Homo sapiens: one gene and its partners. The protein of the gene in region 6 interacts with the protein of the main gene of each other region in a pairwise test. Each region holds a gene or a part of one and is shown on either strand. Other genes may lie near its edges.

Evidence for each region.
Region 1: the proteins of CTTN (region 6) and GTSE1 interact in a two-hybrid assay, tested with the Homo sapiens proteins (one large-scale study listed by BioGRID).
Region 2: the proteins of CTTN (region 6) and YTHDF3 interact in a two-hybrid assay, tested with the Homo sapiens proteins (one large-scale study listed by BioGRID).
Region 3: the proteins of CTTN (region 6) and NHSL2 interact in binary tests that used the Homo sapiens proteins (3 or more experiments, as listed by UniProt).
Region 4: the proteins of CTTN (region 6) and PRPF6 interact in a two-hybrid assay, tested with the Homo sapiens proteins (one large-scale study listed by BioGRID).
Region 5: the proteins of CTTN (region 6) and YTHDF1 interact in a two-hybrid assay, tested with the Homo sapiens proteins (one large-scale study listed by BioGRID).
Region 7: the proteins of CTTN (region 6) and RSPH1 interact in a two-hybrid assay, tested with the Homo sapiens proteins (one large-scale study listed by BioGRID and IntAct).

The regions. Positions count from the first base shown.
Region 1 is NC_000022.11:46,299,252-46,303,619, reverse strand, and holds part of GTSE1 (G2 and S phase-expressed protein 1), read right to left. Parts: intron 1-4,368. UniProt on the Homo sapiens protein: May be involved in p53-induced cell cycle arrest in G2/M phase by interfering with microtubule rearrangements that are required to enter mitosis. Overexpression delays G2/M phase progression.
Region 2 is NC_000008.11:63,188,452-63,192,819, reverse strand, and holds part of YTHDF3 (YTH domain-containing family protein 3), read right to left. Parts: intron 1-4,368. UniProt on the Homo sapiens protein: Specifically recognizes and binds N6-methyladenosine (m6A)-containing RNAs, and regulates their stability. M6A is a modification present at internal sites of mRNAs and some non-coding RNAs and plays a role in mRNA stability and processing.
Region 3 is NC_000023.11:71,916,867-71,921,234, reverse strand, and holds part of NHSL2 (NHS-like protein 2), read right to left. Parts: intron 1-4,368.
Region 4 is NC_000020.11:63,994,580-63,998,947, reverse strand, and holds part of PRPF6 (pre-mRNA-processing factor 6), read right to left. Parts: intron 4,033-4,368; coding exon 3,856-4,032; intron 3,622-3,855; coding exon 3,466-3,621; intron 1-3,465. UniProt on the Homo sapiens protein: Involved in pre-mRNA splicing as component of the U4/U6-U5 tri-snRNP complex, one of the building blocks of the spliceosome.
Region 5 is NC_000020.11:63,202,043-63,206,410, forward strand, and holds part of YTHDF1 (YTH domain-containing family protein 1), read right to left. Parts: intron 1,766-4,368; coding exon 245-1,765; intron 1-244.
Region 6 is NC_000011.10:70,404,424-70,408,791, forward strand, and holds part of CTTN (src substrate cortactin), read left to right. Parts: intron 1-841; 5' UTR 842-938; intron 939-2,874; coding exon 2,875-2,961; intron 2,962-3,094; coding exon 3,095-3,168; intron 3,169-4,368.
Region 7 is NC_000021.9:42,482,725-42,487,092, forward strand, and holds part of RSPH1 (radial spoke head 1 homolog), read right to left. Parts: intron 3,738-4,368; coding exon 3,647-3,737; intron 3,081-3,646; coding exon 2,945-3,080; intron 1-2,944.

The DNA of each region.
Region 1 (4,368 bases), on a different chromosome or scaffold from region 6:
GCAATTCCATTAAAGCCAGGCACGTGGCAATGACATCTCCAAGCACAATTCTTAACACTGTTCTGGACACATAAAGCAACACAGTCAGGCAAAGGAAGGAATGTGGAGGTAACATGATCACACTGCACAGATGCCATGATTATAGACACGAGAAACAAATCAAGAAGATCAACTGGAAACTACTATAAGTAGTAAAAGGATAAAAGAACATGGCTAAGGACAAAATCATTACAGAGCAATCAACAGCTTTCATATCTACAAAGAACAGTGAGAAGATAACATGGAAGAAAATACTTCGTTTCTAGCAGCAACGAAAGATGCAAAATAACGATAAACAAACCTAACAAGAAATATGCAAAATGGATATAAAGAAGACTTGGCATATCATAAAAGTAACATATCAAATAAAGAGGGAAAGTAGACCGGGCAGGGTGGCTCACATCTGTAATCCCAGCACTTTGGGAGGCCGAGGAGGGTGGATCACAAGGTCAGGAGATCGAGACCATCCTGGCTAACACGGTGAAACCCCATCTCTACTAAAAAATACAAAAAATTAGCCGGGTGTGGTGGCAGGTGCCTGTAGTCCCAGCTACTTGGGAGGCTGATGCAGAAGAATGGCATGAACCTGGGAGGCGGAGCTTGCAGTGAGCCAAGATCACGCCACTGCACTCCAGCCTGGGTGACAGAGCAAGACTCCAACTCAAAGAAAAAAAAAAAAAAAAAAGAGGGAAAGTGAAAAAATGGTATTAAAATAAACTACATAATCATCTGGAAAAATGCCAACTAAGTTTGGTCCATGCCTCACACCACATCAGGCCTAATTCCAAACAAATCAAGGACTTAATGGAAAAAAAACAAAGCCCTAAACAAACAAGAATCAGCTATGAGGAAACTTTTGTAACTTGGGAGTGTGGACTTCTAACTATGACACTAAACTGGAAGCTACCAAAGATTGGTCGGCTGGGCCCAGTGGCTCACATCTGTAATCCCAGCACTTTGGGAGGCTGAGGTGGGAGGAACGCTTGAGCCTAGGAGTTTGAGACCAGCCTAGACAACATAGGGAGACCTTGTCTGTACAAAAAATACAAAAATTAGCTAGGCGTGGTAGTCTCAGCTACCAGGGAGGCTTAGGAAGGAGGATCGCATGAGCCTGGGAGGTCAAAGCTGCAGTGAGCCACAATCTCGCCACTACACTCAGGCCCAGGCAACAGAACAAGAACATGTCTCAGAAAATAAATAAATAAAAAATAAAAGATTGACCTTCAAACATTAAAATTTTAACATCTCTGTGTGGCAAAAATCACAATAAGTTAAACAAGAAATGGGGAAAAGAATATTTGCAACTCAGTTCATAAAGGGCTAATTCATGAAGCATATCTATAAAGTAATAAAAAATTAATAATCTAATAAAGATAGAAAAAGGATACAAACAGATAAAGTTCACAGAAAATAAAACAAAACATTCTTTTTTATTTTTCTTTATTTACTTTTTTTGAGACGGAGTTTCACTCTTGTTGCTCAGGCTGGAGTGCAATGGCGCGATCTTGGCTCACCGCAACCTCTGCCTCCTGGGTTCAAGCGATTCTCCTGCCCTAGCCTCCCAAGTAGCTGGGATCAGTATGAACCAGCATGTCTGGCTAATTTTGTATTTTTAGTAGAGACGGGGTTTCTGCATGTTGGTCAGGCTGGTCTGGAACTCCCGATCTCAGGTGATCCGCCCACCCTGGCCTCCCAAAGTGTTGGGATGACAGGCGCAAGCCACCGCACCTGGCCGAAACATTCTTAAATAGATGGCAAGAAGTTCAGCCTCACTCAAAAATAAGAGTAATGAGGCTGGGCGCTGTGGCTCCCACCTATAATCCCAGCACTTTGGAAGGTCGAGGCGGGTGGATCACCTGAGGTCAGGAGTTCGAGACCAGCCTGGCCAACATGGTGAAACCTCATCTTTACTAAAAATACAAAAAATTAGCCAGGCCTGGTGGCAGGTGCCTGTAATCCCAGCTACTTGGGAGGCTGAGGCAGGAGAATTGCTGGAACCTGAGAGGGGGAGTTTGCAGTGAGCCGAGATCGCACCATTGCACTCCAGCCTAGGGGACAAAAGGGAAACTCTGTCTTAAAAAAAAAAAAAAAAAGTATTAAAAATAAACTTGCTCTGAGAATGCAGTTTTCGCCTATATGACTGGCAAAACTCAAAGATGTATGAACTATAGGCAAGGTTGTGGGGAAAGAGACAATTTCTACACTGCTGGGGAAGGTGTAAATTATCACAGCTCTCTAGAGGGCCTGGCAGTACCTATCGAAGTAAGAAACACACACCCTCTTCGACCCAGCAAGTCTACTTCTGCAAGTGTATCCTACAGACACTCACAGGTGTGGAAAGCAATGTGTTGTGCAGTTACACGGTGTCCACAGTTATTTACTGCAGCATCATTGGTAACAGCAAGACTCTAGGCACAAACTAAATGTTCACCCACAGCAGATGAGATGAATGACATATCCCCAAGGTGGAACCCTATATAGGTACAAAAGCTAGTAATGCTCTTCATGTGTTGATACACAATATTCATCAAGATAAATTAAGCCTGAAAAACAAGATTCAGGACAGGGCTCTCCATGCTATATGGAAAGGGGGATGCAACACTCTATGCGTGTTGGCTTGCACCTGCACAAATTATGTCTGGAAGGATACCCAAGAGACTGATGACATCGATGGCCCTTGGAAGGGCAAGTAGGTGACTTAGAGATATAGAGAGGCAGACATTTCACTTTTTACACCTCTAAATTAGGAAGTCAATTTCAGAAACTTCTAATGGTCTGGCGTGGAAAAAGAATCCAGGACCAGAACTCAGGGAAGCAGTCTTCTGCTCCAGGCTCTGTGACTGGCTCCGAGGGGTCCCGGGCTGGCTGACTTGCTCATCCTGCAAACACATGAGCACCCACAACAGACCACATCCTTCGCTAGGTGCCAGGCAGGCTTGGGGTACATGCAGCCCACCCTGGAGGGTGCCTCAGGCAGTGCGGTGAGAGACATGTAGAGGTGGGAACACCTCTGAGAAAATATCAAAGCGTGTGTGAGAGGAACGGGTCAGAAGTCAGAGTGGCTGGAAGAGGTGAAAACACAAGTTGGGTCAGATCACAGAGGGTTTGCAAGCCATGGCAAGGAGCTTTTATTTTCTCCAAAGTGGGATAGGAAACTATTACCGGGCTTTAAGAAAAGAATTTTAGGCCTGGCGTGGTAGCTCATGCCTGTAATCCCAGCACAGTGGTAGGCTGAGGCAGGCGGATCACTTGAGGTCGAGTTCGAGACCGTCCTGACCAACATGGTGAAACCCCGTCTCTACTGAAAATACAAAACTTAGCTGGGCACGGTGGCTCATGCCTTTAATCCCAGCTACTCAGGAGGCTGAGGCAGGGGAATCACTTGAACCCAGGAGACGGAGGTTGCAGTGAGCCAAGATGTCGCCACTGCACTCCAGCCTGGTGACAGAACGAGACTCCATCTCAAAAAGAAAAAAAAGGCTGAGCACAGTGGCTCATGCCTGTAATCCCAGCACTTCCGGAGGCCCAGGCGGGCAGATCACGAGGTCAGGAGATTGAGACCATCCTGGCTAACACAGTGAAACCCCATCTCTACTAAAAAAAAAAAAAAAAAAAAAAAAATTAGCTGGGCGTGGTGGCGGGCGCCTGTAGTCCCAGATACTCAGGAGGCTGAGGCAGGAGAATTGCTTGAACCCAAGAGGCGGAGGTTGCAGTAAGCCGAGATCACGCCACTGCACTCCAGCCTGGCCAACAGTGAGACTCTGTCTCAAAAAAAAAAAAGAAAAAGAAAAAAGAAAAGAAAAGAGCTTTATAATCTAACTTGTGTTTTTAAAAGGTGACGTTACTGTGTAGAAAGTGTATCCGAAAGGAAGCAGATAATATCCCCTGACATTACAAATGCACATATTAGCCAACGGGAAGTAGAAGCCGGTGAGACAGCGTGGCTGAGACCCAGACAGCAGCATGTGGATGGAGATGGAGAGTCTGTAGATGGATTCAGGATATCTTCTGAAGGTGGAGAAGACGTTAGCTGGTGATGGCATGAATGTAGGAGGTTCTCAGCTTGCACAGCTGGGTGAAATGGAGAAATAAAATGGGTGATGAGAAAGACAAAAAGAACAGGGTATGCAGATGCAGAGGGGGTATGCCAAGTTTGAGATGAGACGTGCATGTGAAGACGCCAAATAGGCAGGTGAATATACAAGCCCAGAGCTCGGAGGAGAGGCTGCGCTCAAGACAAAACGTGGGTGCCGCAGAGAGCAGATACGCTGCACAGCTATTGGAATGCTGACCGCCCTGAGGGCGAAAGCACAAAGCGGTCCCAGAGCA
Region 2 (4,368 bases), on a different chromosome or scaffold from region 6:
AAAGGCATAAGTAGTAAAGAAAATCCTAGTAAAATACCACTAATTTGTTCTTTTCAATGAAGTGAAGGACCTAGAATAGACAGGCAGCACATCCTTCCTTCAGCACTAAAATGACCAAAGTATTTGAAAGCAGTTATACTGGGAAGTCCAAATGCAAGCACAAGCATATCAAAGAGAAAATCAACAAATGAAAATACAAATTCTGCCTACACAAGGCTAAAAGTACCAGGAAGAAAACTGGACAAAAACACATGGTACCCTATATGCTAACCAGCTAACAAGCAAGGAAAACTGGTTTCTAACACAGTGGTTTCAAACTTAAGGGACAGTCAAATACCTAGCACAACCCATTATACTGGCTTTCCCTTTTAAATCTCCACAGGCTGGTCAATCACTTAACTGGTAAAATCAATTTACAGCATGACTCTCCCATCTCCACATTTGCAAAGAGAAAGGTATATGCAACTAGCATCCAGCAATGAAAGAAACGGGGTGGGGAGGGTAAAAGTACCCATTCTGAGACAAATAACTGAACTCAATGATTCTCTTACTGGTTCAATGACTAAACACAAAAAGCCCAAAGACAGTCCTGAAGCCACCACAACCACAAAGGATATTACAAAATTATGAGTCCAGATGAGTGGCTGTCAGGGCTTAGGCATGGGGGAAGCATGGAAAAACAAAAGGCTAGTATATAAGGGAGGGTTTGGGGGATGACGAAACTGTTCTGTATCCTAACTGATAGGGTGGTTACACAAATCTACATATGTTAAAATTCATAGAGCTGTACGCCCCCGCCAAAAGTGAATTTTATTGTATGATTTAAAAATATACATATTTTAAGTATACACAAATTCTTATAGGAGCCTTATTTACATTACCCCCAAAAGGAAAACATCCCAAATATCCTTCAAAGGATGAATGGAATAGACACAATGGTCATCCATCCATGTAATAGAAAACTACCTAGTAATAAAAAGGAACAAAGAATTGAGTTACACAACGACATAGATGAATTGCAAAGATACCATGCTGAGTGAAAGATAAACATCTTAAAAGATCATATAGTACATAATTTCAATTATGACAATATGGAAAATGTCTTATAGGGACAAACAACCAATCAGTGGTTCAGTAATGAGAGGGAGAGAGAGGGCTTGACTATAAACTGGCTGGTCAAGGAAATTTACAATTTTATTATATTTAATTTTTTTTAGAAGAAAAAAGATATAAAGTTTCTAAAAACATTAAGTACAGAAAGCAGACATAAGTTTTAAACACAGTCTTTTGTGCTCAATAAAATCAAGATGAATTCTAGGATCAAGGGATTCCATTAAGAAAACAGAGTTAAGAGGGGGAGCTGAATGTGATAATAGAAGCAAACAAATACTATCAGTGAAGAATGCAAAACCTCACAAATCACAGAAACAGCACAAATAAAATACACTGAAAAATATGTGAGCAGGAAAATTCAAATCCTCCAAATGAAGAGAAAAAGAATAAAGAACCAACAGAACTCAAGGGCAAAGATTCAACATATTTGTTGACATTAATAGAAAAAAGTGGCCTGCAGACAAAGGATTACAGAAAACAATATTCATATTGTACACGTTTTCACATTTACATTCATAATGTAAAAATAAAGAAAAATCTTTTGTGCACACACCAAAAAAACAGCTATTTACAAACAAAAAATGTAGGCTGGCCTCAGAATTTTCCATAATATAAAACCACATAACTGTAAAGCAAGGCTTATACATAGTACTTTAAGTGAAAAGGCTGTTGACTAGAAAGAATTCTATACCCAGCTAAATGGTTGCTTACATATTCTGACCAAAGACATTTTATGGATCTAAAGGCTTGCTAATAAATAATAAGTTAAACAAGGTTCAAAATAGAGCTGTCAAAGGTGGGTTAGGCATTAAAAAGGGTGGCAGCAACGTGACAAAAGAAAAACTTCAGCTGAATTAAATTTAAAGGAGATTAACTGAGCAATGAATGTGATTCACGAATCACAGAGCCAGCCAGAGTAGGCTCTGACATTCAAGCACAGCCCTGTGGTGGAAGTTTTATAGACAGAAAAAGGAAAAGTGATATACAGAAAACGGAAGTGAGATAAACAGCTGGATTGATTACAGGTTGGTATTTGCCTTATTTGAACAGTTGGCTACATTTGATTCAGCCAAAATTTGGTCACTGGCACAAGAGTAGGCTGCGGTCTGTTTATACCTCCACTTGTTATAGTTCGCCATGTACAGAAAAACCTTTAGGCTGGACTTAAAATATGTAAGGAGGCGGCTTTAGGATAAACTTTATTTAACAAAACAATGAAACAATATAAGGGTAATATTAAAGTTTAAATCACTGTTGTGTATATGGCTACAATATATATAATAATACAGCTACAATATATACCTGTCATTAAAAATTTCCTGAAACAACTACATAATATTAACATACCAAATACATTATAACAAAACCAGGATTAAATTTTCAAGTTTGGTAGAAAAAAAAAAAGACACAGAAGGGTGATTATCTCCTCAGTGGTGGGCGAAAGAAAAGTTGGTATTTCCTTGCCATGTATCCTTTGTCCTAAGTAATCTCATCCCACTTCCATGCTATTAACTGTTTAAGAACAAAAGGTCCCCAAATCTGTGACTCGGACATCTAACTGCCTAATCAGAGATTTTGCTGCCTATATTTCTCAAAGGTATCTTAAAATCAGCACAATCTAAAAATGAAGTCTTAACTTGCATCCCACCTTTCATACCTCAAATCATTTCTCCTGATGCGCTACTTGTAATGGCAGTTACAATATGACCACTTTACTTAACTGCTAAACTGAAAGACTCAGTAGCTACTTTTGATCCCATTTCTCTCATTTCTCATATTTAAGTGGGAGAAAACACAATTATATTCAGCAACCCATCTAAAAGGTTCAGCAGAGCCTTAAAGTCATTTGTATTAATTACTCCAAAGCAAAGTTTCCAACAATCCAACACAGCAATCAATAACTAGCACCAGAATCACCTGGAATGTTTATACTTAAAAAGTACACTGCAAGTTCCTTTATCAAATATACCAAGGGATGGGTCTCGAGAATCTGCAATTTCAATAAACACCCCAATTAACACTTATGTGACTTAAGGTTTGGAAACTACTGCTCTAGGGTCATTATTCCAACACCTTCCCTCTGAGGAATGTTGAAGCACTTCCCTGTGCTGCACACAACCACAAAGACAAGATATTCAGCTTCACACACAGAAACAATCACTGATTTTACATAGAGTTAAGTTACCTCTTTATCTTAATTTCTACATAGGAACAAGCATTCCATAAGAACATGCTTTCCATAGTAACAAGCATTATTTACTGGAGGAGCTTCTAACTTTACCCCTACTAAGTTTCAAAAGAAATTTAAATGTATCCCCTATAGAAAAGCCCATCCATTTTCTCTTTCCACCTAAAAATAGGACCCCAATTTTACGTTACAGTTTGGAAGAGAAAACTTTCCCTAGTTGAACTGACTCTTGTGGCCCTGTGATCAAAGTCTAGCCAATATTTGGGGGGCTAATCCCCATATGGGCCACTCAATAGGATATTTTTAAAAAATAAAAATAAAAATATTCTGGCCAATATAATACAAGGATAAACAGCATGTTTTATTTCAGGAATGTCTCCCTCAATCTTACAGAGGGTATATAACAGAATTAGGAATCAAATTCTGCAAAGCCTCTATTTTGTACAAGTGCTTTAAGTATAAAAATTATAAAAATACTTCAAGAGTTTTATGTTTTAAAAACATATTTTGCCAGGCACAGTGGCTCATGCCTGTAATCCCAGCACTTTGGGAGGCCGAGGCGCACGGATCACGAGGTCAGCAGTTCAAGACCAGCCTGGCCAACATGGTGAAACTCGTCTCTATTAAAAATACAAAAATTTGGCAGGCATGGTGGCGTGTGCCTGTAATCCCAGCTACTCGGGAGGCTGAGGCAAGAGAATCACTTGAATCCGGGAGGCGGACGTTGCAGTGAGCCAAGACCACTCCATTGCACTCCAGCCTGGGCGACAGAGAGCGACTCCATCTCACAAAAGAAAAAAAAAAAAAAAAAAAAAAATATATATATATATATATATATATGTAATTTCTTATAAACACAAAATTAGAGTAAAACATTTATTTAAAAGTTGTTTCAGCTGGGTGCAGTGACTCAGGACTGTAATCCCAACATTTTGGGAGGCAGAGGGGTAGGGGCAGATCCTTTGAGCTCAGGAGACCAGCCCGGGCAACATGGTGAAACCCTCTATCTACAATAAATACAAAAATTAGCCAGGCGTGGTGGTGTGTGACCGTAGTCCCAGCTACTC
Region 3 (4,368 bases), on a different chromosome or scaffold from region 6:
GTTTGGCCAGGCTGGTCTCAAACTCCTGACTTCAGATGATCCACCAGCCTCGGCCTCCCAAAGTGCTGGGATTACAGGCATGAGCCACTGTGCCCAACCCCTATGTTCTCTTATAATGTTAAAAAATATATTGGCCGGGAACGGTGGCTCACGCCTGCAATCCCAGCACTTTGGGAGGCCAAGGTGGGCGGATCACGAGGTCAGGAGTTCAAGACCAGCCTGACCAACATGGCGAAACCCCGTCTCTACTAAAAATACAAAAATTAGCCGGGCATGGTGGCGGGTACCTGTAATCCCAGCTACTTAGGAAGGCTGAGGCAGGAGAATCACTTGAACCTGGGAGGCAGAGGTTGCAGTGGGCCGAGATCGCACCACTGCCCTCCAGCTGGGCGACAGAGCAAGACTCAGTCTCAAAAAAAACAAAAACAAAATATATATGTAACCTAACCTCGCATTATTACTGCTTACAATTAATTCATCTGCGAGATCATTTTTTTTTGTCACTTACTTTAATCTAAGTCTGCATCATAGTTCATGCTCATTATCCACAAGTATAATTTGTAAAGGATTGCGTGTTCAAATAAGTCAGGAAACTGGGTCTCTCCCAGCTTTAACATCTATAACAGGAGTTCTTCACCTAAGCTGCACGGTAGAATCACATGGGAACTTTTAAATAGTACTGTTTCTTGGGCCTCATCCCCCAGAAATTCTGGATTTATTGGTATGGGGTGGAGCCACAGCATTAGTACTTTTTTTTTTTTTAACATTTAGGGTAAATTCTACCAACATGTTGTACTGATTACAGAGGACTTTGTTTTAAGCATCACTATATCTTGGTCAATAATATCTATTGGTCTACATAATGATTTTGTATAATTACTAAGAATTTAGCAAAACATTAACAATTTAAAAAAACTCTCTAGGTGCTTTAGATTGGCAGTCAGAGTCTATATGAGTCTACGGCTGTAATTAAAAAATGAAAAATGCAATCAGACATGCAGTGTGAAGGATTCTACCCAGGGAGATGGCTGGATTGCCTGGTGGCCAGGGCATCTTGTAGACACTGCTGAGGTGTGCCTATGTCCTTGAGGCTGCCTGGCTGTGAGCTCAGGTTTTCCTCGCTTCATATCCACGCTGGTGAGAGTTAGGCATGCTGGGCCCTCAGGCAAACTGCCCAGTACTTTACTGAAACACGCTTAGGCCCCATAAGTTCTGTGAGAAGGTGTTTCTTCACCCATAAACCAGGCTGGTTCTGTAAAACTGGTGAGCTCAACCAGGAGCCATGCAGACATCCCAAGGGGAAGAAAACAGAGAGCCAGTGAGACACTTGGACAAGAGCTCTGCCCAAAGGCAGGGGACACTGCCTGGCTATGCGGCTTGCATCCATCCTCTGCTGCTTCATTAAAGTCCCTCCTTGGCATCCCAGCCTGGCAGGTTCTGTGGTCAGCCAGCACCACATATTCTCTGTGACAATAAACATCTCATAGCTGCCTTGACTCTTGGTGGTGCCTCAGCTTCAGTTCCAAAGAATGTTTTCCCCCTTGGTTGGCGAGGCAGTGAACAGATGTCAGTGGGGGAGAATGAAGGGAGGAGTCAGAGGAAAGGAAAATCCTCGGGTTGGGAAAGATGAGCTGACAGCCTCAAAGGCTAGATGCGGCTCCTCCGTGGGCACACAAACATTCTTTACATATTCTGGAAAAGGGAAGAATGGCTGCAATTCATAGCTGTCTAGGAACATTCTTATTATAACTTCATCTTGACAGTACCCCCATCCAGGGATTTCAGCAAGCTTCGTGGAATTTCACCTTCTTAGTATTTAGTGATGGTGTCCATGGTTGCAGCATAGGCACCAGGCATTTCATTAATACATACATTATTTTGGATCCTCACAACAACCCTGTGAACTGGGTAGTATTTAACCCCATTTTACAGATGAGGAACTGTGGCTCAGAGACACTAGAGTCAGATAGTAGGTGCTGGGCAAGTGGGACTTCACCTGGAAGCTGACGATTCCAAATCCAAAGATCCTTTTCCTTAACATGTCATCCATTGTCTTTTCTATTTACTAAAAGTAATAGATGTTGATTGGGGAAATTTTGACAAATACAGAATGGTAGAAGGAAAATACTACCACTCATCCCCATAATCCCATCACCCTGAGATAATCATTGTCAGCATTTTGGCATAGGCTTCTCCAGTTTCTTCTTATGTGTATGTGTCTGTGTGGGTGCTCTGTTTTAGACGATATTGTATATAGTAGTAAATTTTATCTTTGGTTTTTACTCAGCATTATTTTGTGCATTTCCATGTAGCCTTATAATTCATTTAGAGCATAGCTTTTCATGGCTGTATATTAGTCTATCACATAGACCTAGGAAAATTTATATAACCACTCCCCTATTATTGAATGTGTAAGTTATTTTCCTTTTTCTGGCTAATGCAAATAACCAAAAAATGCAGTGGGGGTTCCCTGCACATTTTTCCCCCCACAATATCTGATTATTTCTTTAGCATAAAATCCTGGAAATGGAATTACTGAGTCAAAGGAGACACTCAGTGTATAACAACAAGGCCTGTCTTGCTGACAACTCGGAGATACCACCTCCTGCAAGGGCAGAGAACTGCCCTCCCCCTCAGCCCCCAAGGACAGAGGATGTTAACGTAAGGAGACCTCAATCACCTCCGGGCCTCCTAGTCTGGGGGAATAATTTGAGTTTGGTATTTTTCAGTTACTGGGGATCAGGCTATAAATTGTCAGGCAGCTAATTACACTGTGCTCGGAAGCAAATGATTCCAGTCAAAATAAAAACAGATGATAGATATTTTTTAAAAACTCATCTCCTCTTTGAGTCCATTTTAAAAAAAAAAAAAAAATTCTGATTTTCCCCTTGATGAATTACAGACGATTCTGAAGAATCTATGCTATTCAGAAAGAAAAATAATAATAAAAGATATCGTCAAGCCTCAAATTTCCCCACTCACAGAAAAGCAGGGGCATAAATAATACATTTAGCTTTGGAGTGCAACTGGATACACACAGCCGGGGACACACAGGCAGGTAGACTCTTGCTTTCTCTCTCTTTCTCACTGTGGCTCGGAGCCCCTCCTGCTCTGTCTAGCCTTTTTAGAGGGGCCCAGGGCCTGGCCCTGCAAAGCATGAAGGAGCCGAGGTTGCCTGGGTCTCATCTGCCCAAGGATAATGAAAACTTGAGTGTAGATAAAGAAAATCCACAGTTAGTTAATATTACAACTTCATTTGAACCATGCAGTTTAACCTTCTCAAGACCCTCATATCCAACTCCCTGACGAACAAACAGGATGTGAGGAACTTCCCACCCCACCTCCACCCTGGGGGCTTATTCTGAGTCAGGAGGTGCCTTGCTCCCTCTCCTCCTGAATCACTGGCAGTGAATTCCTCCCCCACACCAGCTCTCTCACATATCCAGGGCTTTGCACAGGCTACTTCCTGAGCCAGGAATTCCTTCCCCCACCTTCTTCAACCTTCAACGGCCAGCTCCAGATCATCCTTCAGAACTCAGACATCACATCTTCCTGGAAGCTTCGCTCAGCCTCTGTCCTGAGTCAGGTGTGCCTCCTCTGCCTTGCCCCGGTAGCCTAGACCTTATCTCCACAGCACTATGGCTCACTGTTCTCCCCACTGGACTGTGGGCCTGCATCCTAGTTCTACTCTGTACCCCCAGAAATCAGCACAGGGCAGGGCCCAGAGTCAAGTACTCAAAGAGTGTGCGATAGCTAGAAAGAAAGAAAGAAGGTATTCAATCTAACAGGTATTTATTAAGTGCCTATTAGGTGCCAAGCATTGTTTTGGGAGCTGGAGACACAACAGTGAAAACAGATAAAGACTACTACCCTCAAGGAGCTTATATCTTATTGAGGAGCTTACATTTTAGAAAGAGAGGGAGGGAGGAAGGGAATGGAAGGGAGGAAAGGAGGGAGGGAGGGAGGGAGGGAGGGGGGAGGGAGAGAGGAAGGGAGGGAGGAAGAGCTGCCTAATTGCTCAAACCTCCCAAGTTAACTGGCTGATACCTAGTGGTCTTGTGCATGACCTCATACAAAGCACTTTACTGCAAACTACCTGTACACTTAATAAACATACCTCCTGTTTGTGGCATTATTAAAGTAGTCTTGACTGTTAAGATTGCCATCCTGTGCCCTCTAACTTGAAAACTTCAATGAGGGCTTATTTGAGTGAAATTGTGGAGTTCCACAGAGCAGGGGAGAGCTGATAGCTTGAACCAGGAAGGCCAGCGATTCCCAACTGACAGTAGAGGACTCTAGAGGACCATAGAGTTATCACAAGAAGTCTGTTAGTTTGCAGATCCACCAAGCATTGTCTATGGACTGAAT
Region 4 (4,368 bases), on a different chromosome or scaffold from region 6:
GCAGTCAGAAGGAGAAGGAAAACAGCCTTCATTTCACTCAGACAACACCTTGTGATAATAACAAATTTCTTCTGTATGGAAAAAGATCTATTTTTTTTTTTTTTTTGAGATGGAGTCTCGCTCTGTCGCCCAGGCTGGAGTGCAGTTGTGCAATCTCGGCTCACTGCAAGCTCCACCTCCCAGGTTCACGCCATCCTCCTGCCTCAGCCTCCCGAGTGGCTGGGACTACAGGCGCCCGCCACCACACCTGGCTAATTTTTTTGTATTTTTAGTAGAGACGGGGTTTCACCGTGTTAGCCAGGATGGTCTCGATCTCCTGACCTCGTGATCCGCCCGCCTCGGCCTCCCAAAGTGCTGGGATTACAGGCGTGAGCCACCGCGTCTGTCCAAGATCTATATTTTTATTTATTTTTTTGAGACAGGGTCTCACTCTGTCACCCAAGCAGGAGTGCAGTGGCAATCATAGCTCAGTGCAGCCTCCAGCTCCTGGGCTCAAGGAATCCTCCTGCCTCAGCCTCCCAAGATTCTGTCTCTACAAAAAAAAGTGTAATTTTTGACCAGGCGTGGTGGCTCACGCCTGTAAACCCAGCACTTTGGGAGGCCAAGGTGGGTGGATCACAAGATCAGGAGTTCGAGACCAGCCTGGCCAGGATGGTGAAACCCCGTGTCTACTAAAAATACAAAAATTAGCCAGGCGTGGTGGCACATGCCTGTAGTCCCAGCTACTCAGGAGGCTGAGGCAGGAGAATCACATGAACCTGGGAAGCAGAGGCTGCAGTGAGCCGAGATCACGCCACTGCCCTCCAGCCTGGGTGACAGAGCAAGACCCCGTCTCAAAAAAAAATAAATAAAATTTTTATTAAAAAAGAAAGAATAGAAAGCAGGGTCTCTGACAAATATCTGTACACCCGTATTCACAGCAGCATTATTCACAATAGTCAAAAGGTGAAAGTGGTCCAAGTGTCCGTCAGCGAATAAACAGGTCAGCGAATGCGGTCTACATAGATGAGCGAATGCGGTCCACACACACCAAAGAGTCAAGTCTCATCCTGCCTTAAACTGAGAACATGCTGGCCGGGGCGCCGGGGCTCATGCCTGTAATCCCAGCACTTTGGGAGGCCGAGCCACGTGGATCACTGGAGGTCAGGAGTTCGAGACCAGCCTGGCCAACATGGTGAAATCCCATCTCTAACTAAAAATACAAAAAAATCACACTTCTAATCCCAGCATCCTGGGAGGCTGAGGCGAGTGGATCACGAGGTCAGGAGATCAAGACCATCCTGGCCAACATGATGAAACCCCGTCTCTACTAAAAATACAAAAATTAGCCAGACATGGTGGCACACGCCTATAGTTCCAGCTACTCGGGAGGCTGAGGCAGGAGAATCACCTGAACCCAGGAGGTGGAGGTTGCAGTGAGCCGAGATCACACCACTGCACTCCAGCTCGGGTGACGGTGCCAGGCTCCGTCTCAAAAAAAAAAAAAAAAATTAGCTGGGCTTGGTGGTGCACACCTGTAGTCCCAGCTACTTGGGAGGCTCAGGTGGGAGAATCATTTGAACCCGAGAGGCGGAGGCTGCAGTGAGCCAAGACCATGCCATTGAACTCCAGCCTGGGTGACAGAGAGAGACTCTGTCTCAAAAAAAAAAAAAAAAAAAAGAACATGCTGACGCATGCTGCACCATGAGCTAATTGAAATAAGCCTGTCACAGTAAGGTAAATACTGTATGATTCCAGTCATATAAGATCCAGAGAGTAGTGACATTTATAGAAACAGAGAGAACGGTGGATGCCAGGGGCTGGGGAGAAAGCGCACGGGGACTCAATGTTTAACAGGTACGGAGTTTCAATTTGGGAAGATGAAAACAGTTCTGGAGATGAATGGTGATGAGGTTGTATAACAACATGAACATAATTATGTCAGTGAAGGTATGTACAGTCAAGAATGATTAAAATGGTAAATTCTGTGTTACATATATTTTACCACAAAAAAATTACTGTGACAGTTTTATTTATTTATTGAGACAGTCTCACTCCGTAACCCAGGCTGGTGTGCAGAGGCGCGATCATAGCTCATGGCAGCCTCAAACTCCCTAGCTCAAGCAATCCTTCCACCTCAGCCTCTCGAACAGCTGGGACTACAGGCACCACCAGGCCCAGCTATTTCTTTTAGTTTTTGTAGAGACAGAGTCTCACCATCACCATGTTGCCCAGGCTGGTCTTGAACTCCTGACCTCAAGCAATCCTCCTACCTTGGTCTCTCAAAGTGCTAGGATTACAGGCATGAGTGCCTGGCCCAAAAAGTTTTACAATTTCTATGTAAACAAATTTCAGGCTGGGCATGGTAGTTCACACCTGTAATCCCAGCACTTTGTGAGGCCAGCGCGGACAGATCACTTGTGCCCAGGAGCTCCAGCCCAGGTTGGGCAACCTAGTGACACCCCATCTCAACAAAAAATACAAAAATTAGTTGGGTATGGTGGCACATGCCTGTAATCTCAGCTACTTGGCAGGCTGAGGTGGAAGGATCGCCTTAGCCCAGGGAGGTCAAGGCTGTATGTAGCCAGCCATGATTGTGCCACTTTTTGTTTTTGTTTTTGTTTTTTATTTTGAGACAGTCTCACTCTGTTGCCCAGGCCGGAGTGCACTGGTGCAATCTCGGCTCACTGCAACCTCCAACGCCCGGGTTCAAGCAATTCTCCTGCCTTAGCCTCCCAAGTAGCTGGGATTACAGGCGCCCGCCACCACACCTGGCCAATTTCTGTATTTTTAGTAGAGACGGGGTTTCACCATGTTGGCCAGGCCAAAAGTAGTATGTTCCTTCGTGGTATCTGATATGCATATCAGAAAGAGTTCTGTACTTCACTGGTGTCTAGAGCACCTAGTCTCCAGATCAAAGTACACGTTCCATGCAGGGCCACAAGACAATTTACTGAGAGGCAGGAAAAAAACACACTTTTTAAAAAATTATTATTTTATATTTTAAAAAAAGGCCAAGTGCAGTGGCTCACACCTGTAATCCCCGCATTTTGGGAGGCCAAGGCAGACAGATCACCTGAGGTCAGGAGTTCAAGACCAGCCTGGCCAACATGGTAAAACCCCGTCTCTACAAAAAATACAAAAATTAGCCGGGTGTGGTGGTGGGCACCTGTAATCCCAGCTACTCAGGAGGCTGAGGTAGGAGAATCACTTGAACCCAGGAGGTGGAGGTTGCAGTGAGCCAAGATCACACCATTGCACTCCAGCCTCTGAGTGACACAGCAAGACTCTGGGTCAAAATTTTAAAAATCTGCGGAATTATTCAGGCAAAAATCAAGCCAAAAAAAAAAAAAGGAGAAGGAGAAGAAGGAGGAGGAGGAGAAGGAGGAGAAGAAAAAGGAGAAGAAGAAGAAGGAGAAAAAGAAAACAAAACAAAATTAAACTGTCTAAACCTGTCCACAGGAAAATGCTGTGTGACAAACTCACCTGGCTCAGCCTCATGTCCATCAGAGTGTTCCTCGCTTGGCCAATCTTCCTCATGTCCAGCTCACCTGTGCCAGGTGTCATCAGTCCTGGCGTCATTCCACCTGGGTATGGAGTGTTTAGTCCACCTGGATAGGGTGTGTTAAGACCTCCAAATTGCTGGAGGGGAAGAGAGGAAAGGCAAGAATAAAACAACGGTTTGCACTGCATGCCCAAGAAATTTACTCTCTGAAATACTTCCCCAGTGGCCTGACATATGCACAGCTGTGCAGACAGACTCGGCCACAGCATAGCCATGACCTGCAGAAGCATTGAATCCAACACCACCCACCATTCCTGCCACTGATCTAACAGGACTAAATGGGCCACATGTGCCCTTTTTTGGAAGCTCACAGTTTGTCGGGGATCCACTGAGGTATGGTTCTCTCCGGTCTGTAAATGTTTGGCAAAGAAACTGTCAGGAACAGGGGTCAGCTTCTCATAGCGTGGGTTCCGCTGACGTTTATTTCTGGCATCGCCAACCTCGGGGATGCTCAGCCACTCTTCTTCTGTGACTTCTGCCAACTTCCTCTGGAAATATCCAGCCCCCAAAAACATTAATTCTCTGACAGAATTTCATGTGCCCAGGTAGGACCATGCCCTCTCTCACCCCTAGCCTCCAGATCACCAAGCTTTAGAAGGGATTTGGATGCAGCAACTGTTTTTTACTTTTGTTTTGAGATGGGTCTCATTCTGTTGCCCAGGCTGGATTCAGTGGCACAATCACAGCTCACTGCAGCCTCAACCTCCCAGGCTCAAGTGATCCTCCCACTTCAGCTTCTCAAGTTGCTGGGACCACAAGCGTGGGCCACCATGCCTGGCTAAGTTTTTATTTTTTGTAAAGACAGGTTCTCCCCAAGGCTGGTC
Region 5 (4,368 bases), on a different chromosome or scaffold from region 6:
GTGATCAAAGTCGTTCGGTGACATCTACCCAAATACCATCACTGGTTACTAGCAGTACTCTCCGCAGGGAAAGCCCACGAGGCTGCCAGGACCTGGGCCCGCCCACCTGCGGCCAACTGGGAGCTGCCTGTCACGAGACTCAGCTCGGCGGACCTGCCGCATCTGCTCACCACCGGGCCACCTGGTCTAAGTACGGCACCAAGGACACATCTGCATGGCAGTTGCCTGCAACACCCAGCCTCACCTTGCGCACCACCTCCTCCTCCTCCTGGCGCTTCTCGTAGTGAGCAAAGTCGTCGAAGATGGAGGTTGTGTGCTTGTAGGAACTGATAATTTTCAGCACTTGCTTGGCTTTTTCTAAGGGCACCTCCTGGGTGTCCCGGGAGTTTGTGACCGGTTTGTTGTCGTTATTCTCCAGCCTGATGTGCCGGAGCTGGTTATTGGGTACATCCTTAACAAAAATCCACTGGACATCAAACTTCCCCTTCCACTTGTCCTGAGACCAGACCCCGGCACTGGTGCCGTAGTCCACGGGGGACTTCATCTCGGCCACCCCACAAAAATGCCCACTCCCATTGACGCTGAAGAGCAGGTAGACGGGCCCCTTGCTGCTCATGCAGCGGAAGGCGCTGTCCAGGCGCTTGTTGCCGTGCTCTGTGCTACACCAGATGGAGTACTTAATGGAGCGGTGGATGTCGTCCTCAGAGTAGCTCTTGATGATGAACACACGCCCGCTTTTCAGATTCCACTCAAACTCTTTCGGGTTGTAGCTGTGAGCAGCCTTCAGTTTTTCAAGGACGGGGTGGGATTCGACGCTGGGGGCAGAATTAGGCTGGACGTTTCCAGGAGAGTTGCTATCGCTGCCAGCCCCTCCGCTCTGCCCAAACGCCGCGTTTCTGTTGCGTGGGGCAACCCAGCGGGTCTGGGGTGGCTGCTGAGGGCTCTGATACTGCGGTTGAGCCAAAGCTGGGGGCTGTGCTGGGAGAGGCTGAGCCACCTGCTGGGGCTGTGGGGCAGCCTGTGGAGAGGGTGCCTGCTGGGGGACTGGGGCCTTCGGCACAGGCCCCTTGTTATCCCAGGTGCCAATGTCCATGTTATGCTTTATGGGTGGAGGGGGCAGCCCACCCCCCATGACAGGCCCGCTCTTTGTTTTCATTTTAGGCTGTGGTTTTGCAGGCTTGCTGGCAATGGCAGCCCACGAGGTCGGCTTTGAAACTGGCATGTTCACATTTGTCCCACCGTTGCCAGAAAGGACACCAGTCAGTGCCACGCTGCTGACGACAGAGCCCACCGTCTTGACGGCGGAGGAGCTGACGTCCCCAATCTTCAGGCCAACCATGCCCTGCTCCAGGCTGTTCATCCCGGGGGCCTTGCTGAGGGTGTCGCTGTGAAAGCCTGGCTGCCCATCAACCACCGTGCCACCCAGGGAGCTCGGGGGGTAGGTGTAGCTGCTCCCATACGCGGAGCTCTGGGTCTGCTGACCTTGAGACCCACTTGTCCCCCATGCTGAGAACGCAGGGTTTTCAGGGAAAAAATTGAACCTGTGCTGATAGATGTTGTTCCCCAGGCCCCCAGGCTGCCCAAAAACAGCATCGTGCATAAAATGATGGTCTCCGTTACTGAGCTGTCCGTAGGTGGTGAGGTATGGAATCGGAGGGTCCCCTGCAGTAGACCACGGAGCCTCATTGAGGGAGTAAGGAAATCCAATGGACGGCGGGTAATAGCTGGACAGGTAGGGGTCGCTCATTGAGGGGTAACTGTTACTCTGCAAAAGCAAACGTGACAAGTTACACCACTTCTACAACACGAGATGCTGAGAATGCCAACCGCCTCTTGCTTAAGCACAGGTGGAGCAAAAACAAAACCTGCACAGCATGGGGCTACTCCTTCCAGAAAGAAAGCTGTAGTCGCCAATGTGAGAACCAAATCAAGACAGAGAAATTAATAACGAACACAAACCAGGGTGCCGTCTCAAAATACGAAGCATCATTGGCAAGGCTCTGAATTCAGGCTAAATGACGAAGCTATGCCTCTCTAGAACTGGCAAGGTAGCAGCCCCCTCTACTCTTACCTGCAAAGGAATCCAGAGGTAGAGGAGTAAACCCCTGCCTGCTGACGACAACGCTTATGACAGACACGGACGGCATCATGGGAACTGAAACAGCTTTGTAAGGCAGAGATATTTCCATTGGCAAACCAGGATGTGCAGGGCCGTGAGGCAGTTTGCTCCAGAGAACAGACCCCAAGCTCGCTGATTACTCAGCAGGCCCTGGGCGCCCACCTCTGGGCCTTGACATTCCTCCTGGGACACTCTCCCATACCTGGACCAAAGCTCTCCCAGAATCCTTCAAGGGTGCTTCAGAGGCTCCTTCCACACACCCTTCCTAGCAGATGGCCCCTGCCTCTAAGTCCAAGGGGGTTCACATTCCCATGATTTCCTGGGCACAGCGTTGGGCTCTTGCAGTAGGCCCCTGCACAGAGGGCCCTGGCTGGCTCCAGCTCCTCAGCCAAGAGAAAGCATCCGAAGTGTGGACTCTGTGCTCCGGGTGCAGAGCAGCCCTCACTCTGGATGCCAACTCACCTGGGCTTCCTTATGAAAACATGTCTGTGTAGTGACTGGAACCTCAGAGAGTGGTTTTAAAGTGACGGAACCATGAGGCAAAAAGGTCTGCTAGAGAAGGTGAGTGCCTGAGTGCCCCATCGTAGGGGTCTCTGAAGAGCTGCCCAGGGCACAAATTTAGACTGAGGGTCAGCAGTTCTGGGACGGCATCTCCTTGGAGAGACTCAACTAAGGGTCTGGTCATGATTGGGTCCCTCCAACACTGCCTTAAAATGACTTTCGTGTGAGGTGTGTCTGTATGTGTGTGCGCACACACACCTGTACACAGGCCGGTGAGACGGGGTCCAGTGTGAGGTAAGAAGGCTCCCACCTAGACGCATCGTCTGAGAGTGCCAAGATGCTATTACAGAAAACAGAGCCGGAAGTAAAACACGGGGCTCTCCAGTCTGTGACGCCCGTTTTTGGATTTTTAGTTTTCCCGCTCCCCGCCCCCCAGTCCCCCAAGTAACCAGAAGGTTCTACATAAAGAGAATATGCTCCAGACCTCATCTCACAACCTCATCCCTGCCACATTGACCTTTCATGTTGGCATCAAAGGCTACACTATGAAGGATAACAGCACCCAGTCGGGGACACCAGGTGGGAAAGTAGCTGAGGCAATGAGGGAGACTGTGGGATCCCAGACAATGAAACAGGCCTGCTTCACTGGAGGGGTGACCACAAGCAGCTCTCCCTGGGGGCAGTGCCCCAACACCAGCCAACACTGGTGGACTAATGAACCAATGACCCGGCCACCACTTCCTGCCTCCTGCTCCCATCCTAGAATACTGAGGGCTTCAGAAATCCAATTTATTTTCTAATTTTCTTCCTGTTGACTTCTCCACTTGTGAGCAGACAATTCCAGAACCCCCCCCTTTTTTTTTTGGGACGAAGTCTCACTTTGTCGCCCAGGCTGCAGTGCAGTGGCACGATCTCAGCTCACTGCAACCTCCGCCTCCCAGGTTCAAGCGATTCTCATGCCTCAGCCTCCCAAGTAGCTGGGATTACAGACACCCACCACCACACCCGGTTAATTTTTGTATTTTTAGTAGAGACAGGATTTCATCATCTTTGCCAGGCTGGTCTCGAACTCCCAACCTCAGGTGATCCACCCGCCTCGGCCTCCCAAAGTGCTGGAATTACAGGCATGAGCCACAGCGCCTGGCCCCAGAATCATCTTTTAAAATGCACTAACTGCTGTTTCCCCGTAATATAAATTTGAGATTCTGGGGGTATAAGAAGACAAGTGGGATGCTATCAGTGTTCCACAAACATGAGATTAATCTGAGCTTATTCTCCCTCAAAACAGTTTCCATGATGCTGGCTCCTTTGCTGCAGCCTTTCCCTCGGGTGCTGCCCTGGCCAACAGGCCCAGACTGGGGGGGTGAGCGAATCAGGGGGGCGGTCTGTGCACAGGACTTGCTCCTCGAGTCACTGGCCGCAGGTGCCTTCAAGGACGGCAGGCAAGGGGACAGTCCCCCCCACAGGGAAGCCAGCCCTCCTCCTCCCATTAGCTGGACACGTGCTCCTCAGCAGCGCTGCAATCACAACACATCTTCCTTCCACGCAAAAAGAGCAGATGGGAAAAAAAGACCTCGATGGCTGTGTGGTATTCTAATCCACTTGGCCCCAACACCAACCAGAGGAGTCAGGCCACAGAAACAGATGCCCAGGGACACTTCTGACTTACACCTAAAGCCTTAACTAAGACAGGACATCACTTACCACATGAAAAAATCCACATTACATGAGGCATGTAACATTCCTGA
Region 6 (4,368 bases):
ACCGTGTACGTTCATTAGGAATGCAGCCCGCCTCCTCCTCGGCTCTCCAGCTGCCAGTCTCATGTCTTGATAGACAGTCACCATACTGGTTTTTCCTCCCGGCCATATCATGATCCTCTCAAGGAGTGTTTTTCTTATATTATTGTTTTAAAAAGCTCACAGTAACAATTTTATTTTATAATGTCATTAATTAGAATGAATAAAAAGTGAAAATCTCTAAGAATTATGGCAAACAGTAAATGCATACTAGCAATTAAGGCAATAATTTCTGTTTGCATTCATAAGAAACATCATGTAGGCCGGGCGCCATGCCTCACACCTGTAATCCCAGCACTTTGGGAGGCCAAGGCAGGCGGATCACCTGAGGTCGGGAGTTTGAGACCAGCCTGACCAACATGGAGAAAACCCGTCTGTACTAAAAATAGAAAATTAGCTGGGCGTGGTGGCGCCTGCCTGTAATCCCAGCTACTTGGGAGGCTGAGGCAGGAGAATCACTTGAACCCGGGAGGTGGAGTTTGCGGTAAGCCGCGATTGTGCCATTGCACTCCAGCCTGTGCAACAAGAGTGAAACTCCATCTCAAAAAAAACAAAACAAAAAAGACAAAAAGTCATCATGTAGTTAGAAATCTTTTAAAACTTATTTCTTTAGTTTCTCTCTGTTGAACTTTTTTATTAGTAAAATGCAAGTCTTCCCATCCTCCTCTCAGATTTCATTACAAAACCTTGTTACGTTTGGGAAGATTTCTGAAGTTTTCTAAAAAGATCTCCACACAGAAGGGTTTGCCCAGGGAGCTGCTCAACATACATCCTTCTCAGCTTTTTACCCTTAATCTTTTTACAGACGGAATCAGTCCCCAATGCCTGGAAATTCCTCATTGGATTACTGTGTTTTAAACAGAATTTCGTGAACAGCCTTTTATCTCCAAGCGGAAAGAAAGGTACTTGTGCATTGTGAACATCCTAACATTCTTTTCCTGTGGATGGTAAGGGCAAAAATCCCTTTAACAGGAAACGGGGGAGGTTGCTGTTTCTGTGGATTTACTGGGAGAGAGATGATAATATTCTGGAAGGAAATTTCATTGTTTAAAAAATAAAGTCAGGTTTCTGTTGCATATGACTTAGAGGAGACAATTGCAGAAAACTCTGGAATTGAGGAAGAGAACCATTCCTGTCCTCCCTGAGGGGAAATCTGGCCCCTTCCCCACCCCATGAACATGGGTGGGGCCCCCAGGCACAGGATTGTGAAGCTCGCAAGTGCCCACCCCGCTCGCTGGTGAAGCTGTGTCCGGGAAGATGAGCAGAGACTGTGCTCTGCTAATCTCTCCCCGATGAGCCTGAAAAAGTACCAGGCAAAGACACCTGCCGCCTTTCTCCTTTGCCTTGGGGGTGAAGGTGGCCTCGCCAGCCCTGCAGGGACTCCCATCCTTTCTTGCAGCCACCTTCTCAGTGGTGGGAACCATGGGCAGCTGAAGTCCTGCAGGCGGGCAGCCCCCTCGCCAGGGCAGCATGGTGCCATGGGGCGGCCGGAGACCAAGCATCCCGTTTCTCTTTCCTGCAGCCGTTGCTTCATTTATAAATGGGCGCGTTGGGACAAGATGGACTGGTTGTGCCTTTCCGTTCTGAGATTCTAGTTCATCTGTTTTCTAAAATCCTGGCAAAAGCAGATCACTCTGGAAATTCTTGCCATGCTTTGGGCATTGACAGAAGGTTCCAGGGGCACTGTTAGTCCTGCTACACCCCTTGGCAGACGGTTCTTCCCCAAGAGACAAAGTCGCACCTAGAAATTTGAGAGCACGCTGCCCTGATTGGTCCCTCACTGTCACATTGGATTTGGACTTGAGACCCAGCCAGGCTGGAGGGAGAGGAGCCAGATGGGACATTCTCAAGCTGCGAAGGGGTTTTGTCCAGTCCTGATTCAGGGCGCTAGAGTCCCAACATGGCACCTGAGAAAAAGTGAATTGGGTGTCCTCAGTTCAGACCCCTGGGCACAGCTTATGGTTGTTTGATTTAAAATAATCTCTCAGTTGCTCTGTGGCCTATGTGTAATTGTATTACTATTTCTGTGGAAAAGGAATCACTTCTTTTTATACATAGTTTGAAAAAAAAAAAAAAACCTTAAAATTTTATATTTTACCACTGCAGTTACAAGAATTGTCTTGTTAGGGTTTACAGATGTGCCATTGTTCTGTATAACAGAGAAAACCTTCCAGTCTTCAAGGGCTGAGGGAGAAGGTGGCTGCCCACTTGCAGAGCTGCCTGATAGAGGAAAAGGTGGCATTTTATATTCCTGTTTTCTTCCAAGTAGAGAGTAAAGCAATTCTCCAATAAACTACTTGAAACATTTATTAAATTGTAAGTCTGAATTAGGAAAATTATTGTTATGGTTTCAGTAAGCACTTGAAATCAAAATGGGTGCACTTTTTAAAAATGTGTGATAAAATACACATACCATGAGATTTACCATTAGTAACATTTAGTATATTTATAATACATAATCCAAAATGGTGCTTTTATTTTTGGTTGGAAACTATCATCATATGATTGAACAGAACAGGAATATGTTCTTAATGAATAAATAAGTGCACACACGACTTTTTTATTTTCCAGAAAATTTTCTCACTCAAGGTGAAGCCAAATAGTATTTCCAGTATATTTCTGACGTCAGGTGACGGCAGTGTTAGAACCCCGAGGTGAAATTTCTTTTACTCCTGTGGTTGTCAGTCAGGCTTATGGATCATGAAGGATTGGCTGGTCCTGCAGCCTCGTCCTCCTGGGTTGCCTAGAATCTCGGTAGTTTTGGCCAAAGGGCTCATCTGCTGGCCTCTGTGGATGGCGCCCTGAGGCCTCCGTAACCCTCCCCGGCTGCTCTTTCAGATGTGGAAAGCTTCAGCAGGCCACGCTGTGTCCATCGCCCAGGATGACGCGGGGGCCGATGACTGGGAGACCGACCCTGATTTTGTGGTAGGAGCCGCCAGCCTTTGCTTTCCTCTTTCATGAAGTGGAAGTGGCTCTCCTGGGTTTTTCTTTGATGGGGTGGTGGTTTGTCTGTGTCACAATCCAGGCTGTGAGATTTACTGGTCGCTTTTCTTTTCAGAATGATGTGAGTGAGAAGGAGCAAAGATGGGGTGCCAAGACGGTGCAGGGCTCCGGGCACCAGGAGCATATCAAGTAAGAGGCGTCGCCACCACCCTCCCGAGGGCCCCTCTGCGGATGGAGCCCCAGGTGCAACAGGGCCCATGGTCATCTGTGGAGGGACAGCCCGTGTGGAAACTGCATTTATCTTCTTGACCTGATACCCATGCAGTAAATGAATATAAGACACACACATATATGTGTATTTGTGTAATGTGTGTGTTTATATGTGTATATTTAGATACTTCTGTGCTCAGTAATTTTTAAATTCCCATTGCAAACAATTTCCGTATTTATAATTTTAGAGTGTCCGCTTCTCAGTATTGTGGCTTTTATCAGGGAACATTTGTCCCTAAGCTCTACCTTACAAGCGAGAGGTTTCTAAAGTATGAGATGTCTGAATAACTGAGACCTTAAATGCCCTGTCCCTTTTTTTATTATCTGGAAATGATTATGTGTTAATAGTGAGGTACTGTGAGCTTTGTGTTCTTATCGAAAGCCCAGAGTTGGGCACTGAGTGAACCCTGTCATTGTTTCTCACTTGGCACTATCTAAAATGCCAGCTCTTGGGGCAGTTTTTTTTTTCGTCAGAAAGTGTAGATAAAAGGAACTTTTAAAATATGCTCAGACTTTTATTTTAGGCCACGCTGGGTTCAGAGTGGATCCTCCTTTCCCTGGCTGTGAAGGCAGCACCACTGACCCGGTGACCGCCTCAGTATCCCGGGAAGACTGTCCCGCTTGACCACGGTCCCTTCAGCTGAGAAAGATTTAGTCCTTCCTCCAGAAAAGAAGGCACAGCCTGCACAATGGCTTTTTATTTTGTTGTTAAAGATTTATTTATTTATTTATTTATTTATTTTGAGACAGGGTCTCACTCTGTCACCCAGGCTGGAGTGCAGTGGTGCAATCATAGCTCACTGCAGCTTTGACTTCCTGGGTTCAAGCGATCCTCTCACCTCAGCTTCCTGAGTAGCTGGAACCATGGGCGCACACCACAATGGCTAGCTAAGTGCTTTTATTTCTTGTAAAGATGAGGTCTTGCTTTTGTTGCTCAGGCTGGTCTTGAACTCCTGGGCTCAGGTGATTCTCCTGCCTCAGCCTCCCAAAGTGCTGGGATCACAGGTGTGTGCCGCCGCACCTGGCCCCCAGTGGCTTTTTATACACAAGTTTTAGTCCCTCTCTGGCTTGCTCAGCACACTCCCTTCCACAGAAGCAGCTTCGGAACTCCGGTGGCCG
Region 7 (4,368 bases), on a different chromosome or scaffold from region 6:
ACCATTCTTAAGTGTCAACACCCAGCAGAAAATACAAAATACAAATGTCACCACCACAATACCCACCTCAAATCACCAAATTGGGTAAAGTGTAACATGGATTAAGGAATGCTTTTGTGAACTCGTGGCTGATGGGATTGGAACTTATATGCCCTGTTTTGTTTACTTTTGGAAACTTTAACCACATTTTACTTTTTTATAAAAGTGATGTATTCATTTTCAGAAAACCTCAGTGAATCAGTATCCATAGGCAAACTAGCTACCGATGGAACTACTACTAATATTTTGATGCATTCTTTGTAACTTTGCTTCTAGTATACATGGTTAAATAAAAATCTGATCATAATTATACATACTAACTCATACTCTATTTTTACTGAGAAATATGGCATGAACTACTTCCCGTATTTACAAATATTCTTTCCTAATAACAGTTGCCACCTGGTACTTTATTTCATCTATGGATTGCAACCTATTTTACTCAGTTACTATTGTTGGTATTTGGGATACTGATTTTTTTTTTTTTTTTACAAAGAACGCTCCAGCAAACGTACTCTGAGTTAAAACTTTATGTACGCTTTTGATACCATCCTTAAATTCTCAGAATTTCTGGACAAAAGCATACATGTGCTTTGATTAGATGAGGCTCTAATCGTTTCATTCCCATAACTGCACTTAAGAGTCCCAGATCCTCAAACTCTTGATTTTAGGAGTGTAAAAATGGTCTATTTTTACATGTTTTTTTATATAAAACAACAGGGTCTCACAATTTTAATTCACTTCATTTCAGTTGTTAGTAAGCCTGCATTTTTTTCAAGATTTTTAGCCATTTAAATCACATTGATTGATAAAACACTTTATATATTAAATGTTGCAAATATTCTCTCCCCATTTAACAGTCATCTCTTAGATTTTCTTTACAGCATTTTCTAATCTATAAGAAGTTATTTTTATAAAGCTAAACCTATTGGTTTTTCCTTTCTATTTCTGTTTAGAAAGTTCTCTTTCCTCATTTCAAGGTTAATATTCATCTACATTTTTTTTCTATATTTCCTAGGGTACATTTAAATCTTTACTTCTTCTAGAAAGTATCTTCATCTGTGTGAAGGCAAAACTATTATTTTCCTCCCAAATAATTGTCAAGTGTTCCTAGCACTATGTCTTGACTCCTCCCATCATCCCTTTGTTAATTTGACACGCTTATTGTGTGTGAAATTATTTTATATACTGGGAACTGTCTCTGGACTTCCTAATTTGCTTCATTGGTGTGTGTGTGTGTGTGTATCCTGGTATCACACTGTTTTAATTATTGAAGTTTTGTGGTATTGATAACTTGTCCACAAGGACATGTACAGGGAATTTTCTGAGGAAGAAACACAAACCAGCAATAAACATGTGACAAGATGTTTGACCTCACTAGTAATCAGGGAAGTACACATTAAAACAATGAGATGACATTTTTTACCCATAAGATTGGAAAAGAACAAAAACAACATTAAAGACTGAGAATATCCAACATCGATGAGAATATATGATAAACAGACTCATATTCTATTGGCAAGAGTATAAACTGACACCACTTTTTAGGAAAATGGGCACTACCGATTGTGATTCTAAATGCCAATCCTCAAAGGTTTCACAATTCCATTATCTAACCTACACAATAGTCCCAAATGTGCAAAATGACAAATATGTATCTTTATGTATATTTTTGTATCCTGACACAGTATGATCCTAATTATGTAATTAAAACCCCCAAACAATAATTCTGTGTCAGATGACTGTATTAGAATGTGCTTACATGACACACAGAAATAGTGTGGAAGGATTGGGCCCAGGGTGGTGGGGCAGGATCCTAGTGTTTAAATGCTTTACAATTGGAATGTACTTGTGTATTATTTGTATAATTTAAAGTTTTTTACTAACTAGCAAAACAAAGCCTCCATTTTTACCCCGATTTTTCAGACTGGTTTAGGCTGGACAAGCTGATTGATTCTTCCAGATTCATTTTCATCAAATTCTCTTCCTCTGCAACCACCTTCCCATCTCCTCCAAAAAGACCCACAGAAAGTTTGCTGGGAATTATATAAACAATGTATGGGTTTGAGGGGAATGTGCTGTTTTGATGAAGACTAAAAGTAAAATCTGTGGTTAGGGCATGAATTATACGTAAATGAAAACTGGGTTCTAAGAGAGTCTGAAGAGACTTCGTTGTATCAGCTAAACATTCCCTCTGTCAACTTCTAACACCATCAATTTGCTCCGCAAATTCTCTCTTCAGGGAAAGTTTCTGCTCAACCCCTGATCAAAGCTACCACGATGGCCTGAGTATTAGCTTCTGAATTATTCAAGGTTTCTCTGTACAATAAGGGCAAGAGGAACCACCGAGTCTTCCAAACAGAAACGGCCCACCATGGGTGCTAGAAGCTGGCAAGCCTCCAGACGCAGGGCCAGGCCCTTGGCAGCCTTAATTCCCACCACAACTAGGAGCACGCAGGCTGGCCTGTAGCATGAGGAGGGAGCTGGGGGTCTTCCTCCCCAGGGATGTCGCACCTCCCCTTCCAGGGAAACAAAACCCAAACACCTCTATGCTCAATTGCAGGAAATAGATATTTGGTATCTGATTTACCCATGAGAAGGAATACACACAAGAGGTTCAGATGCCCTCTCGTGTTATATAACAATGCAACAGGTCCCCGCTGAAAGACAGTGGGAATTTGTACTGAGATCCAGAGAAACGGGCCAATCCCTCCCTTCCCCCAATTCTGTGCTCTGTGGGTACCAGAGGCTCAGAGAATGGCACAGCTGTCCTGTTCTCCACATTTGAATAGGCCGGACTCAGTTTTCTCTGAGTTTTTGGTATTCTCTGGTCACACATTTGCACAGGCTGCCAGAGGGGGTTATTTTGTACTTCATTGGCAAATGTCACTTCCCATGGACTTACATTTTTGTTCAAGAACTTGCCCTGGTACCTGTGGTTCAGGTGAATGAGCTCGGCCGTGCCCTCCTGCTGTCCGTTCACCCAGGTGCCAACATACTTACTGCCCGTCTCCGCGTATAAATAGGTGCCTTGCCCATGCCTGGTTAAGACAAGGGGAACATGGTATTTCGTTCCAGCACAGTGAAAAATCTCCCAGGTTTAAAACACAGACATTGACATTGAGGGAGGCCCAGGCTGTTGCAGGCTCACAAGCGATGTAGCTTCTATATCTGTGTCCAGTCAGAAGGTGCCCCTTGCTCAGTGTGCCCCAAGCACAGGACATTGCCAGAGGCACAGAGGACAGGCCAGCTGGACAGAGGCAAGCCTCCTGTGTGTCAGCTGCTTTCCCCAGGGAAGAGGCAGAGCTAGTGGGAGCTGTGGCTCAGGTCCCCCAGTGGCTCTTCTGTGCCCTCCACTCCCTGGGACTCTTGGGTGAAAGACTCACGTGCTCTGCCCCAACTGAGGTGCAGATGTCAGATACTTGAGTCTACACTTGCACAGAAAGGCATCCTTGCCTCAAAGCCATAGAAAGATTGGACCTGCCTGGCAGAGTTGGTAACTGGGCTTTTGTTATGATTCTGTTCCTCAGTAAGTGTAAACAATCTGCAGACATCATGTTCTCATTACATAAGCAAATCCCGTTAAGACCCAAGATAGAAACCGAACCTTTGATGAGCAAACCACTCTCCAGTGTAGGTGTCATTATTGATGTAGTAGTATACGCCATGGCCGTGCCGCAGGTCATTTGCCCACTCTCCTGAAAGGAACAACACAAAGGCAAGCCCAGGTGAGAAGAAGGGATCGATGCCCTGTACCATGTCTTCAAATTGTTAACCATGGCAAAGGCAGATGTGTTGTGAAGCAAATGAAGCCCATGCACACACAGGCCCCTTCTGCTCAGGAAATCCTGCAGAAGAGAGATTTTTAACAGCACCGACCAAGGCTGCTATCTGTTTCCACTCTGACATCCCTCCACCCCTTCCTTTTGTGCCAGATGGCATAGGTGCTGAGCCACGGTGGACAGTGGGCTAAGAGAGGGCTGAGTCAGGAGTTCACGGGGTACAGAGTGAGGTGTATGGATGTGGGCCACAGCCACCTGCATGTACTGACAAGCACATTTCACAGGTTAGTCAGAGGCACCACGAAGATGCAACGAGGAGGGAGACAAACCAAGGTTGTCTGACCCATTGCCAGTGATCCTAACACCACACTTCATTTACCTTGCAAATGTTTAGAGATCCAGCAACAACTCCAGGGCTTGACCATCTATCCTCAGCCACCTGGCAGCATTTCAGTCTATCTCCCACCCAATCATCTGACTCCAACATGCCACTCTAACCCCAGCTGCACACCAGCTCCATCCGCTGGTGCCATGCCTCTGTTTGAAC